Linked DNA regions of Homo sapiens: region 2 is linked to region 1. The links come from fine-mapping of genetic effects on gene expression. A gene starts in region 1. The other region holds a variant in brackets. All regions are shown on one strand. Distances are between the middles of the regions. Region 1 holds the start of SMIM43 (small integral membrane protein 43). Region 2 has its middle 23 kb from the start of PP12613.

Region 1 (8,341 bases):
GCTCAGATAAATGGATAATCTAAATAGTTATGGTTAGAAAGGCTGACATGGGTTGAGCTTGGCAACATAAAACCTTCATCCGTTGGCCTTTTCCCACAGCATTCTGCAGGCAAACACTGGCTCATTTGAAGTTCTGACCTTCAAGATTTCAAAAGTAGGAGCTGAGATGCAGAAGGCATATGTCTCTTGAAATGTGTTTCTTTTTAGTCTGACGCTCAAAAGAAAAAAATATGGTGATTAATTTGATGGTCATGCACACAAAAGTATACTTTTCCCTGAGAGGCAGTACAATCATGAGGGTTGGGAGTGCAGGCTCTGGAGCCAGACTTCCTGGGTTCACATCCCTCTCCTGCCACTTGCCAGCGGTGTGGTCTTCAGCAAGTCACTTAACCTCTCCATGCTTCAGTTTTCATCCTTAGATACCTTGGATATCTGGATGGCAATGTGCCAAATCACATGCCTTTCCGACCAAACACCTCGTTAATTAAGAGTGCTTAACATGTGCAAAGTACTTAAGCAATGCTTTCTTAATTGGTTAGCATTCTCCTTTGAAAACTGGCGCTAACCACTCTGCCTCGCAGCAAGATTTCCTGGAAAGCCAGTGGAAGGTTACGGAATGGAAAGAAAGCAGGAGGGCCCAGTCTGGGCCAGGAGTTGAGGATGCTGTCGAAGCAGGTAGCAGTAGCCATGGCTAGGTCACTCTTGGGACTGTTCTGGCACTCAGATTGCCTGTGCAACGGGGATGCATCTGACTTCCGAACATTCCTCCTGTTCTGTCAACTCCCAAGATTCAGAGTACTGGAGACAAGGATATTTAGCTAAATTTCTGGCATAGCTCTTCCTGCCCTCCTCCCCACACTGTATCAGGAGTGGGTAAAAGATATATCTGATCCCCTTGGTTTCCATAACAGGAGGTGGCAAGGGAAAGTAGGCACTGGGATCTGTCTTCTTGCCAAGATTACATAAAATGGAGAATTCCACCCGTAGGAACATGTGGTGCTTAGAGTGGAGGTGTGTGGATTCTGGGCAGTCAAAAAAAAAAAATCACAAATCTTTGCTAAACTTGTATAAGACTTCAAATTTCTCTCAATAGTCCCACGAGCAGTGTTGTGCTGGTTAATTTAACAACTGCCTCCCTGGTCCTGATTTGTAGCATTTGTCCATTTTCTCAAGGCAAACCCACTCATCATGGCTAATTTCAAGCTACCAACATGACAGCACTGAACACAGCTGGGAAGAGATGCGCAGTAACATACCACTATGCAGCATCTTCACCACACAGCTACAACAGATGTAAATAACCTCAAGTGCATAGACAGCAGTGAAATGTAGTACTGAGGTTGGTGCAAAAGCAATCACGGTTTTTGCTTTTAATGACAAAAACCGTGATTGCCTTTTTACCAACCTAATAAAATAATTAGAAAGTGATGAGTTTGGAGTATTAATTACCTTTGTTGTTAACATAATTGTAGGTTTATATAATTTAACTTTTAATAATAGCTGGAATTTAAAAATTGGTTTACAAAATTTAACAATCAGCTCCTGTGAGTCATTACGAGCCAGCTCCAGCATACCACTGCCTATGAAGTGGATCAATATAATGTTATTGAGAGAGAGACAAAGAGAAAATGAAAGAAAGATTCTTCTCACTTATGCACTAAGATGCTTGATGGAGAGGCCTAGGGCCTGGAAATTTTGTACAATAGCTTGTAGCATTGGGGGCCCTTCGTAATAGAATAATAACAGTATCTGACATTTATATAGCAAAACACATTTTTATTTAACATTTTCTCATTTTTGAGCCTCACAACAAATCCAAGGGAAAGATAAGCAAGGCATGTTACAGATGAGGGGACTGAGAGTCACTGAGCAAAAGTGACCACTGACAGAGCTGACACTAGAATCGGGTCCATGAGACTTGCAGTTCACAGACTGTTTTCATACCACCCTGTCTCTTTGAACCCCTGTCATCCCTGGAGCAGCCACTTATTACAATCTGGGATGTTGTCAGCCCTCATCCCCAGAATTCAGTCCAGGAGGCAATTCTGCATCTTCACAAATAAAGAATAAAATAAAGTTAGGCCTACAAATGGGCAATGATAGCTGGCTGTATTAACAGCTGTCATAGCCGACTCTAAGATGAGCCCCAGTGATCCTTACTCCTTGGCGTTCGTGTCCTTGGACTCCTACCCTGAATAGGGCTGACCTGTGTGACCAGTAGGATATTACAGATCTGATGGCACGTGACTTCTGAAGCTGGCGGTAAAGAGCACTGCAGCCTCTGCTTTGTTTTCTTTCATCACTTGTTCTGGGGGAATCCCGCAGCTGTATTGGAAGCACCCATGGAAGGGAACTGAGGCCTCCCACCAACAACCAGCCCTACCTGGCAAGCAGTGAGTGAGCCACCCTGGAAGTGGATCCTCCACCTCTACACAAGCATTCAGCTGAAGGCAGACCTGGCTGACATCTGAACGGAGCCTCATGAGTAACCCGACACCAGAATCACCCAGCCAGTGCTCCCACATTTCGGACCCACAGAAACTGTGAGAGATGATCAATGTTTATGCTGTTTGAAGCCACTAAATTTGGGGGTAATTTGTTCTGCAGTAATAGATACACTGAACAGCTTTTAAAGCTGCGCGATATGGGCTTTGGGTCACGTCAACCAGATACAGAAAGGCTTTAGGGACTCAAGAAACACTTTGAGTAAACTTGTTTTCCTCTTTTCACCAAATAAACTGAATTTGAGGCCAATATTTGAAATCTTTGTGCTATATAACTTCTGAAATACATTGTATTCTTAATGCGTTTCCAAGTGACCTGTTGTCCATAGAAAAGTACACTCAACACTGAATGTATCTGCTACTCTGAAGAGCAAGACAGCTCGAACTGGAATTCACTCAGACACCTCATAGCACGAAATCATCTCATAGCCTTTCAGACCCCATCTTCACTGCCACCTTTCATTCTTTTGGGTCTCTGGGCCATGACATCCCCTGTCCTTTCGGAAAGCAGGAACGGAGGGATATAACGAAATAAATTAATTGGGAACGCAGCGGAGCTAGGGACCCTACTGGATGTTGGGGGTGGAACTTTTAAATCATTTACAAAACACCAGTCCCGACCTCCCCTGGAAGACTGAGCTGTTACCTCTTCTGGCGTCCGTGCCCGCGGAAGTTCGCTCCTAGGGAAGTCGCTCGCGTCCTCAAGAGCACCTGAGAGGATCTCGGCGAAGCGGAAGGCTTTGGTGCCAGCTGGGAGAGTCTGCGCCGGATTTCCTCAGCTCCTTGGCGCGTTTCCTCGGAGCCGGGGGAGGCAAAGCACGGACCCCGGAGTCGGCGCCCATAGCGGGACGCCCTCGCGAGGGGCGGGAGTGCGGGAGGTGGGTGTGCGGGCGGCGCGCTCGCCCTCCAGCTGCAGCCCGCGCCGAGCGCGCAGGGCCAGCGAGCGCCGGCGCCTCCAGCATGGAGTGGGAACTCAACTTGCTGCTCTACCTGGCGCTCTTCTTCTTCCTGCTCTTCTTACTTTTCCTCCTGCTCTTCGTGGTCATCAAGCAGCTGAAGAACTCCGTGGCCAACACGGCCGGGGCGCTCCAGCCCGGGCGCCTCTCGGTGCACCGCGAGCCTTGGGGCTTCTCCCGAGAGCAAGCGGTGTGACCCGAGTGCGGGCACTGGCGGGAGGGCACCGAGCTGCGCGGGCGCTGGGCTGGGTCTCCGCCTCGATTCTCCGTCCTCGCGGCCTCCCAGCTTCCAGGTGCGGGGCTCGGCGGCTCTGACGGGTCCGTTCCGGCGTGAGGCGCAGGGACCCGCGTCTCCGCTCCTGTGGGAGGCCCGGGGCTCGCAGCGCGTTCGGGTGCCAGGGACGGTGGGTGTATGGGGTCTGGGCTGGCGCTGTGCTCTTCGAGAGGGACCCTAAGCTGTTCCAGGGCTGGGAGAGATGGCGAAAAGAGAATTCGCCCTTTGGAGCCGGAATGACTTTGGACAACTGCAAGCTCTTTTCTGTCCAACTGCATTTTAGTTATACCCAAGGAGTGGAAAAGTAAATTATTCGGATAATGCAGTTTAGCCACTTTCGAACAAAATCGCAGGTTAACCTGAATATCCACATTTTTGAGAAAGACTGTGTGGGCTTTGGGACGGGTGGCAGGAGGAAACGGGGCGCACTTAAAGTATTTTAAATATTGCTTTAAATATTTTTGCGCTTTGAGAGATGGTAAATGGGGTTCGTCTGGTGGTGCTGGGGTGGGGCGTGGGGGAGAGAAGATTCAGTCGTCCATTTGGAGGGAGGAATCCCTTCCTCCCGGTGATCCTTACTCATATTCTAGCCACCAACCACGGTTAGTGCTTGCGGATTGCCGTGCAGGGTAGGTTTCGAATCTGGGACAGCGGATGGTGAACGTTACAGTGAGAGTCATTTGGAAGATGCCTTAGGGTTGGCCGGTACGTGACCTTTTGGGTGATGGCATGGAGGGCCAGCTAAAAGAGGTACTGTTTGCATAGTGTAGGGAAACAGGAAAAAGGACGGAGAGGCGGGTCTGTGGTTTCAGGTTAAATTACTAGAGCTTTTGCAGAAGATGGGCGGGCAGGAGCAAACTCGAGTACCAGTATGCCCTAAGTACCCTCTCGCTAATGTTAGTTTGGGAAATATCTTCATCCTTCAGTAGCTTTTCCCTAGATTTATGTCATCTCTCTTTCTAGAGCCGAGCTGCTGCCCTTGACTGGTGCTCAGGGGACCACAGCTGCAATGACAGTTTGGGCCTGCAAAAAGAAGGCTGGAACAACGGGAGATGGAAGCTTTCTGCAAATGGTAAGTTGGGATGACGCATGGTTTCACGTTGGCCTTAGTTATGACTAAACTTCTAAAGATCCAGGGCCTAAAAACATGTTGGTTCAGGATGGGGGAAATGGGTACAAGGAAGGAAAGGGCACTCTCCCACTCAAATCTGGTGAGCTTCTACCAGATCCACAAAGCCAAACTGACTCCTAACTCATTGCAAGAATCAGTGTCTTAGTAGAGGATTGTGGAAATTTGAATGAGATGTCAGGAGTGTTTGCACTTTTAATAATCATTCGGCCCTTTTGAAAAACAGTGCGGGGGTTCATGGGGTGAAATATGTGATGCAGATATACTCAATCTTCAGTAAGGGAAGATTTGGGTTTAGTCATGTCAGTGTGGGATAAGCTAAGTCATAACTATAGTATTGAAAATACTAATTTTAGACACAAAGACCATATAGAGAGGCTAAAAACAATGAAATACTAAAGTTTGCCTAAGTTGATAATATAAAAGTGAAGTGTAAGACAATTATTTTAATGCTTCAAAGGAAAAATAGTCTCAGGTGAATAATTTTGGCCCAAGACATTAGATAATTTCCCACTTTCTATTTCACTCTCCCCAAATAGGCCTGTTCTTAATGAAGTAAGAGGTTTACTTTAATTATTATGGTATGAGCAAATCCTCACCTCTTTATCAGAGTTATGGTAAGACTTGATTTGAATTCCCAGTTTGAACTCCCTGAATCAACTGCAGTGATTCTGTATTGTGCTTTGAACAATAGTTCTCTAATTGGTTGATATCTCTGCAGTGGCATTTAGTTAAAAGGTTGTATGGTTAATATGGACATTGAAGATGAGTGTGGGAGTAATTAATTAGCAATTATAGTTGTTTGTAAGGATTGAAAACAATCATTTCACACTTTAGAATAACCAGAATGGAAATTATTTTAACCACATGCTTGCCTTCTTGAGTTTACAATCCTTTAATCTTCCTAGCAGCACCACTGGTATCCATGAATTTAACCTGCCCATCATTCTTCCTAAACAAGAGACTATTGAAAAGTCAGGGTGAGTAGTTTATTACCATCTCAGTATTAATCCAATCTCTCAGCTGGTTCTACTGACTCAGGTTCCTAAGAAAGCAGGGGTGCCTTTCTATCTTGTATCCAGGGCCATTTTATTAACTCCTTGTAATCAAATTCATTAATGACCAAGTTCCCATTTATCCAGGCCACAATGAATATTTATTCCTATTACTCAACCTCTGCTTGGAACTTGACTCTAAGCTCTGGGAATTAAGGTAACTCACATTTGCTCTTAGATCTTGCTGCTGTTGATCTCCTGCCCTGCACTTGCTTTGTTAGAGACTCTGCTTTTGAAACTTTGACAGCTGTAGATGAGCTGTCTTTTGCTGTTTATTTATTTATTCAATCATCATTTTTCCAAGACCTGACATAGACTGATCTCTCAAATTAGAACTACTTTCAAACTCACAATTTTGGCCACCTTTATGCATTTTTGGCTTAGATCAAATACTCTGACACCCACAATGGTCTAGGTTGCAGGCTTCTACATGTTGGCTACTCCATCCCCTGACGATCCCCTGTTCTGACAATCACTATGTGCCAAATCTATTTTTAAAGACTGTATATATATGAGCTAGACATTAAAGCACTTGAAAAGTCAAGAACATTTAACATAACTGCTTATTATATAAATGTAACTTGATTATAGAAGATTCCTGTGTTTTATTTTCAATAAAAAGGTTTTTAGTGATTCTTCAGCAATGTTAGAAGGTGACTTGAATTTCTTACATTATAAGGAAATGAGCCATAATTCTATTATGTAATATTTGTATTTTATTTCAAATGTTATTATTTCATCATTGTTTCTAAATTTCAGGTGTTCAAAATGGCTTCAGATCTTATCAGGACAATCTTGGCTGTTGCACTAATTTCCAAACTTGTAAGTGCAATGGATCTGCAGTTCTACTTGGCAAGATAACCATTTTAAGTTGAATGAGAATGACATCACACTCACACCTGCAAAATCTAAAATGTCTAATAAAGTAGATTCCTATGTCTGAACTTCAATTTTAGGGCACAGCTGTAGATGCAGAACTGATGCCATCTGGTGCGATTCTACAGAATAAGAGAGAAAATTTACCCAGAGTGTGCCATGCACTGGCTTTTCTGGGAATGGCAAGGTGCCAGGATTTGTTTTTGGTTCGCTTGCAGGGGTGGAAACTTGGAACTAGGTGAGTAAAAAATATGAAATACTCTATTTTTAGTTTGACATTCTATATTTCCAATTTTGTCTATAGTTTCAAAATCAGTGCAATAGAGTTAAATTTTAAATGACCAAAATTTTAAAGTTTGTAAATGGTTAAACCATTTAGAATAGTGGGAAATGTTTGTTGTTTTCTAAGTCACACTTACTAATCTAGAGACTGTTAGAACACTAAAGATACTAATGTAATGCATAAGGTATCTACACAGTGCTGTACTTTGTTTTTAATTTTTACAGCTACTCTGAGATATTCGTGCATATTTAAGCTAAATCCACAATTAAAACTCTAGGATCATTAGAATGTCACTGTCAGATGTCTGTGTCACATACAAGAGAAGGTTAAGAATTGAGTTGTAAATCTTTGATGTAGTTTTTTTTTTTTGTTTGAATCAGTGAAATAAATTTCTCAGTCCTCCACTTTTTATTTTGTCTACACAAAATAAATAATGTTATGGGTTAATAATGATCTGATTAAGTATCTGAGTCATGAGCATCTTCCCATACCGGAAGGTGGATTATCAGAAGGGCGTTCAGACCCAGTAATCAGAACTTAATAAGCATGCAGAAAAAGCTTTCTGATGGATTAAGGTTAAAAAAACCTTGTTTTTTTCCTTAATAGTAGCTTTTTATATAATAAGCCCAAACATTTCTGCCATTCTTGGTCTGTATAGACAGATCCTGAAGGACATGGGTGGGTTTGAGCTAAAACCATTATCTGCGACTTTTGTTTTATTAGTATGACTCTGAAGTTACTTGAATTTATTGAATAGGTACAGATTCTTCAAGCAAGATGTCTTTTCCTTTCAGATGAAAAATCACACTTTCCTATTGGGAATCAAGATGAATTTTTATCTTGGTAATGGAATAGGAAGTTCTGGACTGAAGAGCGGCTTAAATAAATTAGAGGGTTTGTTCTTTTCTCACAGAACAAGGAGGTTAGAGGCAGGCAGCTGCTGGTGCTGGTTCAGCAGCTCACGGGTGTCAGGCTTAATTAAGGTGGCTGCTGAGGTTCCCTTGGCTTTTTCCTCCAGGTTCCAAGATGGTCCCCGCAGCACCCCACAAGAAGAAGGAGGAAGCCCACAGAGAAAACGGGGCATGCCAGTTCAAATCCACTTCCTTTTAAAGAGCTTCCTCAGCAGCCCAATAACTTTTGCCTTCATCTCATTGGCCAGAACTGTGTCATTGGCTACTGCTATCTGCAAGATTGTCTGAGAAATGTAGTTTTTGTAGCTGGATATATAACTGCCTTTGACAAAAATCCAGTTTCTCTTGATGAA
Region 2 (8,341 bases), 23 kb after region 1:
GATGAGTTACTGGGTGCAGCACACCAACATGGCACATGTATACATATGTAACAAATCTGCACGTTGTGCACATGTATCCTAGAACTTAAAGTATAATTAAAAAAAAAAAAGAAAATGTGGCACATATATACCATTGAATACTATGCAGCCATAAAAAAGGATGAGTACATGTCCTTTGCAGGGACACGGATGAAGCTGGAAACCATCATTTTCAGCAAACTATCACAAGGACAGAAAACCAAACATCACATGTTCTCACTCATAAGTGGGAGTTGAACAATGAGAACACATGGACACAGGGTGGGGAACATCACACACTGGGGCCTTGGGGAAGGATAGCATTAGGAAAAATACCTAATGTAAATGACGAGTTGATGGGTGCAGCAAACCAACATAGTACATGTATACCTATGTAACAAATCTGCACGTTGTGCACATGTACCCTAGAACTTAAAGTATAATAATAATAATAATGATAATGATAATAAAATATTTGTGGGACATTTAAAAAAATAAATAAATAAAATAAAATTTAGGAAAACCACTTGTGAATTTTTTTTCTTTTTTTTTTTAATGCCAGAGTCTCACTCTGTCACCCAGGCCGGAGTGCAGCGGTGGGATCTCGGCTCACTGCAACCTCCACCTCCTGGGTTCCAGCGATTCTCCTGCCTCAGCCTCCCAAGAAGCTGGGACTACATGCGCGTGCCACCACACCCGGCTAATTTCTGTATTTTTTGTAGAGACAGGGTTTCACCATGTTGGCCAGGCTGGTCTCAAACTCCTGACCTCAAGTGATCCTCCCGCCTTGGCCCTGCAAAGCGCTGGAATTACAGGCATGAGCCACAGGGCCTGGCCTGTGAAATTGTTTTTGAACCTAATATTTGGATATCTGACATGCCTTCAGGGGAAGAGGCCTCACCACCCTGGTCCAGTTGTAATGCTCAAAGGCAGGATTTGCTTGACTCTGGAAAACCTGGGTCCCAAGAATTCTTGAGATGGAGAGCTTTCCACGTGACTTTTTGCTTTCTTTTTTGAAGAATATTGCAAATATATCCTTATTTCTTTTTCTGAATATAAAAGTAATGTGTACTCAGTATAAGTATTCAGACACTTATTAAAGATATTCCATAATCCTATGCCCTTAATTGATTTTCCTATCTTTTTCATATATATAACATATTTTTATTATTTTTCGAGTCATAATTTGGAACCTATTCTAGTGCTGTTTTTTGTAATTGCTTTTCTCAATAATGTGTGACAGTTTTTATCTGCCTTACTTTTTAATTTGAATCATGTTGTCTGCAATCACACCAGATATTTATTTAAAGTAATTTAATGAACAGCCTCTCTTGGAGAAATATCAGAAAAGGTAAGTTACCAGTTGTGCAATACAGTTATTCCCCTACCATTCCCACTGAGATTCAGAAGTTATAGCTAAGGCCATTATAGCCATGACAGTTAAATACCATAGCTTTTATCAGTCTAAAGATTCCTTTTAGGATAATAACATTAAAATGTTCTCTACCCTAACACATTTGCTATAAATTTGTTCTGTTTTGATCTTCACCTTTACTTCTGTCTGCTGCTTTTATTAGTTGTACTGTAACCTTGGCTGAAAGCAGTGAAATTGTTAGAGGTTAGCACAGACTAGAACAGAGGCTTTCAAAAGGTTTTGACCAAGACCCAGTAAGAAATGCATTTTGCCTTGTGACCCAGTGCACATGAAAATAAATGAAATACAAGTTTCATTATACGGTACACTTAAGTGAAAGGCACTCTGATACTTTCTGTTTTATTCTAATTCTATTCTAGTCATTTTATGTCATTAAAAAATACTACTTGCCCCCTCTCACTCTATCCACTAAATTGATTTCAGGACCCACTCATTGGCTTTGATCTGCATTTTATAAAACAGATTTGGAAGATAACTTCTGCCTTGTAGCTGGAGGAAACTCCTATTACCTGTGAAAATAAATCCCAATGCTGCTTGCAGATTGTTCTTATCCCATCTATAATCTAAATAATTAATGTTTAAAAGTTAACCTTGATAATATGATACATTATCATATTTAGAAAATTTGTATTGAAACATAATGTATAATAAATGTGTTAATATTGAAAAAAGTGCTATTCTTATTATTTAAAAGTCTTCCTGAAGTTTTAAAATTAGGGCTGATTACCATATATATTTTATTTTTTAAGTCTATTAGAGAAAGTAATCATGTGATTGATTAGGTAGCTGGTATTTCTTCTCTCAATGGGATTTTTACTGCTTAATTTAAGTCCATGGTTGTCTGTGGGTCTTTACTATCACTCTAACACTTCAGGACACTTTCCTATTTGGTTATAATAGTGTTTTGTAATGGATTACTCTTTATTCTTTGCTTCTTAGCTTGATCTGCTTTCTTTTTAAATAACATTCTCAAAGCAAGATACAATAGCTAATACAGAAAACTTCAACTTTCTGTGCATTTTAAATGTTGTGTATAACTAATTTTTTTGTGTCCCTTACACAATCTATGTTTTGATGTACAATTTTGTACATCAAAATAGGATGAAAATGCAGAACCAAAAATGTGGTATGTTTCTCCTCTCCATTTGTTGAACTTTCAATACTGGATGGCAGAAATTAAAGCTGCATTATAGGACTGTGGACAGGGTTTAGGGAACCAGCAGAGACTGGGCAAGCACCTCAGGGACAGCCACAGTGGGGAGCTGGAGCTATTACCAGCCCTGGGTCTAGAGAGGTGAAAGGAGGGGCAGTTGCCAGGACCCAGGAGAGTAGTGGTGGGAAATATCCGCTTGACAGGAACCAGGGTCTTTGGAAAACACAGCCAGCGCTTGGTGACTCAACAGGGAGGGAAGAAAGGGAAGGAATACTCAGACCCCTCATTCCTTCCAACGATTCATTTTCTACCATTGCTTCCCAGTGGTCAAACCCAGACAAAACCAGAGGATGAGGGAGCCCATTGATACCCCTCCTAGGACACAAGGTAGGGTGGAAAAGGGTGAAAGATAGATCTGGAGGGTCAGTGGGGAAATACCCAGCACACAGACCTACTTCAAAATTTTAATGGCTGCATGTATTCCATTAAACTTAGTAACATAATTTGCATAACAAACCTTGTATAGATGGATATTTTATTTAAATTTTTTCATTAGTATAAATGAATGAATTTGGAAGCCCTTATTAGCTAAGTCCTTGTCCACGTCCATAATTCTTTCCTTAGGATAACTCCTAAAAATAGAATTTTTGACTTAAAGCATGTGCACATTTTATATTTCTGTCATTGTTAGATTGATTTCCAGAGTTGTAATCATTTATACTCTACGTAACAGTACATGACCTTTTTTATATTTTCCAATCTGATAGATTAAAAAATTTTATTCTTGTAGTTTAAAGTTATTGATGAGATTGAACAAGCTAATTGGCAATTAGAACATTTTTATCTAGTATATGTCATCTTAATATTGGGATTCAAACAACAAAAAGTGAGACGAAATTGTTACATTGTTACAACAACTACTTTATGATATGAAGTCAGCTCCTTAGCAAACATGATATCAAAAAAGACAGAGAATTTATCTGGTATTTTGCCCCTTGGTCAATACACAAATAATTGAATTCATTAGCATCGTTAGGAACAGGGAAGGTCATGGAATTCAGAAACAAGTACGAGTCAAGTTGCCCTGTGGGTAGGTCTGGGAAGGCAGGATTTTACAGCACTAGGATGTCAAAGAATAATTAGAATTCTTCTTTCACGAGAGCTCTTCAGAATTTTCTCTTCTCTAGGTTAAACAGACGAAGTTTCTTTTAGAGAGTGCCAGACTCTACCGTTCTGTTTGCTCCCTCTGGCAGCCCTCCAGTTAGATTATATTCCACTTAAAAAGTGATGCTGTTGGCTCGGGTAAACAAGTCCTCACACACTATGGTAGGAATGTGAATCTGAATGGATACATTGAAGGGCAATTTGGCAGTATCTATTGACATTTAAACTGCACGTAATCAGTAATTCCACCTTTTCCTATCTTTATAGAGAAACATACATACACACTAGAGACATGTATAAGGATATCGATGTTAAAAGCAAAGGAATAGAAGCAACCTAAAGGGACGTCTCTTTAGCTAATTAATGACTAATTAATTAACAGCTAAACCATTAATTTATTCAGCAAATATTGTAGGTACATTGAGTACCTACAAAGTGTCAGGTACTGTTCTGGGTTATCGGGTACATGGCTGAAAAAAATAGATGATTCCTGCCTTTAGGAACTTACAGTCTAGAGCAGGGAGACAGAAAAGAAACATAAAACATAATTAGCAAATTATCTTGTGCCATTAGAAGGAGACACTGCTATGAAAAAGGAGAAAGTCGAGCAGCGTAAGGGGCCCTTGAAAAGCTGTAGTCAAATAGGTGGTCAGGGTAGGCCGCCGTGAGATGAGAGTTGAGTGAGGGATTGAAGGAGGCACAGGAGCCGGCACTGTGGGCATCTGGGGGAAGCCCTTCTAGGCAGAGGGAATAGGGAATGCGAAGGCTCTAAGGCAGGAGCTTGCCTGACATAATGGAGGTGCAGCAGGCCGGCCACTGTGGAGGGAGCCAGCAGGGGCTGGCGCCTGAAGGGGTGCTGAGGGAGAAAGCAGCAGCAAGTGGAGGGCCTTGTGGACCATGGTACAAACGTTGGGCTTTATTCTGAGTGTGATGGGGAGCCATTGGACAGTTTCAAGAGGAGGAATGATGGGTTAGTGCTTTCAAGTGAAGGAATAATGGGTTAGGTCACTCTGCTATGTTGAGAAGTGACTTGAAAGGGCAAGAAT[AG/G]AGCCAGGGAAACCGGTTTAGGAGGCCCCACCCACAATCCAGGAGAAAGATGATGGTTGTTTGGAGGCCCCAGCCACAATCCAGGGGAAAGATGATGGTTGTTTGTATGCGGGCGGTGAGCTCTTTGGGGTTGGCTCCTGCATTTCTTTTATGTATTCCACCCTTTCTTTTTGTGAGCACTCTTTACTTTCTTACAAGATGCTCTGGGCCCAGCTTGTATTTTCCTTTTTTCTTTTCTTTTTTTTTTTTTTTATAGTCAGGGTGTTTTTATTTTTGTTGTTGGTTGGTTGATTTTAATTAAACCTCAACTTTCCAACTTGTAAAGAGATGTTAAAATCTTAGATTTCTAACCTTACTTATTATTTTTTTGCTTTATTGACATATAGTTGACAAATAAGGAAATGATAAAAATTTCTTCATACAGTTATCCCACATATTAACTCTCTTAGGCTGTTGTCGTAGGAAACTTGGCTAACTTTTTTGCCTTTTATGTCTTTATCTGGTTTCTGGCAAAATCATTGTTTAAGTTTGGGTCAGATATAGGCTTAGAACATGCCCATACTTCCTTCTAGGCTGTTTGACGTGGATTCATTTCTCAAGACACTTCGAGTTTAGTTTTCAGCTAGATATCAATCCACCTAACTGTTCTATCATCCACACCACATCTCCCCATCTTGTCAATAGAAAATCACGAAGTTTTGTCAGATACCAGGGGAAAACTACTTTTTACTATGCTTATGGCATTTCTTATTACGGCCCAAGAGAATCAGTTTATATTGCAGGAAGGCAATGGATGATGCCTTGCAGGGAGACAGAGAAAGCTGTGAACCCTTATGAAGATGGGGCCCTGGAAGTCTGAGTCGGACTGCCTCCACCATATGCAGTGTTCAAAGACAGGTGTTGAATTAGTGTACATTTTAGGCAGACTTATGTGGTGAAGCCTGAGAGTAGGTATCCAGGCAGTGGGTAGCATTGTACATCTGGATAATCAGTCCATTTACATTGGGTCAGAGGCCAGGACTAAAGGAAGCTGAACCTAGTGGACTAGAGCAAAGGATAAGCCTCTAGGACAAACTGGAATTAGAGAGCTAGGCAAAAAAAGTGAGTTAGAAGCCTTGTCATACGGTCTAGGCCAACATGGTGATGAATAGAAATAGGCTGTAAATCAGAATTTTACTCTGGGCTCACTGGGTGTCTGGTCAGTGACAGCAAGTCACTGATTCCAGATTCCTTATTGCCAACACAAACAGCCATGCTGAGATAGCTGGTGTACTTTCTAACCTGGTGGGCACAGTAGATTTTAGCCAGTCTTATCTACTGTGAAGAAACTGGAAATGATTGGCCTACATTTGGAATTTGATCTCCACTCCTACAAAATACAAAGTACGACTTAGTGGTTTTCAGATGGCTGCACTTCTAAATGCTCACAGACTCTATTTTTAAACATAGAATTTTGATATGGATTGACATTAAACTTGTTCTTTCATAATTTCCAGACTCCTCTCCTCACCCCAGCCCACTCTGTCTGCTTTTTGAAAAGAGGACCATTTGCCAGCCAGCCCCTAAACTTGTGGTTCTCACCCTGTTCTCCATGATTCCTCCACATTCCTTGCAGCTTTGACGCAAAACTGCCTTCACCAGCTGTGGCTTCTCAGAACCCACACAGAGGAAGGGAGGACATTTGGACAACAGATTTTCTAACAGCTGAAATAATCAATCAGTACTACATTTTGTCTCTGTGCCAGCTATTTCTCTGAATTAAACTGCATTATTTTATCTAATGCCTGCCCAGGATGCCTGTCTTACATGAATTTCACTTTTTTTCTCTCATTTTATTTGCAACTGAAATGATCTCACAATGATTGATTCCATTCTCTAGTATATGAATTTCTCTCACTCTCTGTTGGCTAGCTCTACTCTATTAGAGAGGCAGTGCTTAGATACTGGAGCCAGGCTGTTGCATTTAAATCCTAGATTGATCACGTGACTGCCTCTCTGTGCCTCAGTTTCCCCATCTGAAAAGGCAGATAATAATACTTGAGAAACACCTTGAACATATGTGACCATATGTGATGTATAGTTACTGATCATGTTACCTAGTGTTTCTGCTAGGTAAAGTAGTCTTCATCACTGCATTCTTACTTTTTTGTCCCATTTCACAATATCTTCTTTTGTTTGACACAGTATTCCTCTCCTTTTGCTAAAATTTTAAATTCATTAGATGTATTATGAATTAACCTTTACTTTGATAATCTATATAGATATCTGAAGTCATGGTATTGTTCCTAATCCACTTCCTTGTTTCTGCCAAGACTTATTAGTCTGCTCCTATGCTATTGTTCTTCCCATGTGATTCCTGGTATTCTTCATATGTGTACAGTTGTATCTGGGCATTTTTTCCTTCCCTGCAAATGTCAGGTTGGCACTTTTCTGCCGAATGTATTCTTTCCAGCTTATGCAAAAATAGTCCAGCCTCCACAAGAGTCCACTGTTCCAGAAATCCAAATTCACCCCTATCCATAAAGAAAGCCGGCTGGTTACTTCTCACATCCTCTTTAATCTTGCAAAGTCACAGACTTCTCTTGGAATGAAAGATGAAAACACACCCCATGCCCTGAGGTCCTTCAGCCTCCTGCTCAGAATTTCAGAATGCACACAGAGACATTTTGGAGAGTTCTGACTATATTCAGTAGGCTCAGATGAACCATTAAAAGTTAGTAGTAGTAGTAGGATTTGATCAATGTCAGCAGACTTTTTGACCTAACTAAAACATAATCAAGAGCCAAAAATCTATGAACACAGAGATAACGAGCATCTGAGTAGTTGAGAGGAGAGAGAAGCAATGCCAGGATCTAAATATTTCCAGCGCGAGCCCTCTGATGTTCATGGGGCCTGGAGGGTTCCACATTCATTATGTGTGTGAGGTTTCTGCCCAGCAAGGCTGCTGACATGAGGCAAAGCAGAGCCCTGGCGAGGATGTTTCTGGGGTCACCGCACATCTGCCTTCTCCAGCGTGTGTTCTGTGATGGACAGTAAAGGGTGAGACGGAATTGAAATGTTTTTCACATTCATTATACTTACACGTTTTCTTCTGTGTAGAGAGTCTCTGAATTATGATACATTTTTTTCAAAGCTATAATCCAAACTGGATTCTTTCTCTTGTAGGAATTTTATGACGTATAACAAGATCTGAGCTGCTCTCCATATTTGTTAAATTGCATTAACTTCATAGCCTCACTGATTTTTTTTTTCCTTTTTTTTTTTTTTTTTTTTGAGACGAGTCTCGCTCTGTTGCCCAGGTTGGAGTGCAGTGGCGCGATCTCGGCTCACTGCAGCCTCCACCTCCCGGGTTCAAGCGATTCTCCTGCCTCAGCCTCCCAAGTAGCTGGGACTACTACAGATGTGTGCCACCACATCTAGCTAATTTTTTGTATTTTTAGTAGAGATGGGGTTTCACCATGTAAGCCAGCATGGTCTTGATCTCCTGACCTCATGATCCACCTGCCTCAGCCTCCCAAAGTGCT

Evidence for each region.
Region 2: its variant is fine-mapped to the expression of SMIM43 in lung (TOPMed, PIP 0.99).

What each region holds. Positions count from the first base shown.
Region 1 is chr4:121,760,229-121,768,569 of GRCh38, reverse strand. SMIM43 (small integral membrane protein 43) reads left to right here and starts at 3,406. Exons shown (of 6, transcript NM_001384332.1): 1 at 3,406-3,753; 2 at 4,698-4,806; 3 at 5,772-5,843; 4 at 6,678-6,740; 5 at 6,875-7,032; 6 at 8,096-8,341. The coding sequence starts at 3,465. The coding sequence ends at 3,656. PP12613 (a long non-coding RNA gene) reads right to left here and starts at 3,985. Exons shown (of 1, transcript NR_024365.1): 1 at 1,762-3,985. RefSeq lists an enhancer at 7,392-7,561.
Region 2 is chr4:121,737,443-121,745,783 of GRCh38, reverse strand. No RefSeq gene overlaps it. Among named protein-coding and RNA genes, the nearest start is that of PP12613, 23 kb to the left of the region's middle. The variant AG/G (reference allele first, on the strand shown) is at 4,817.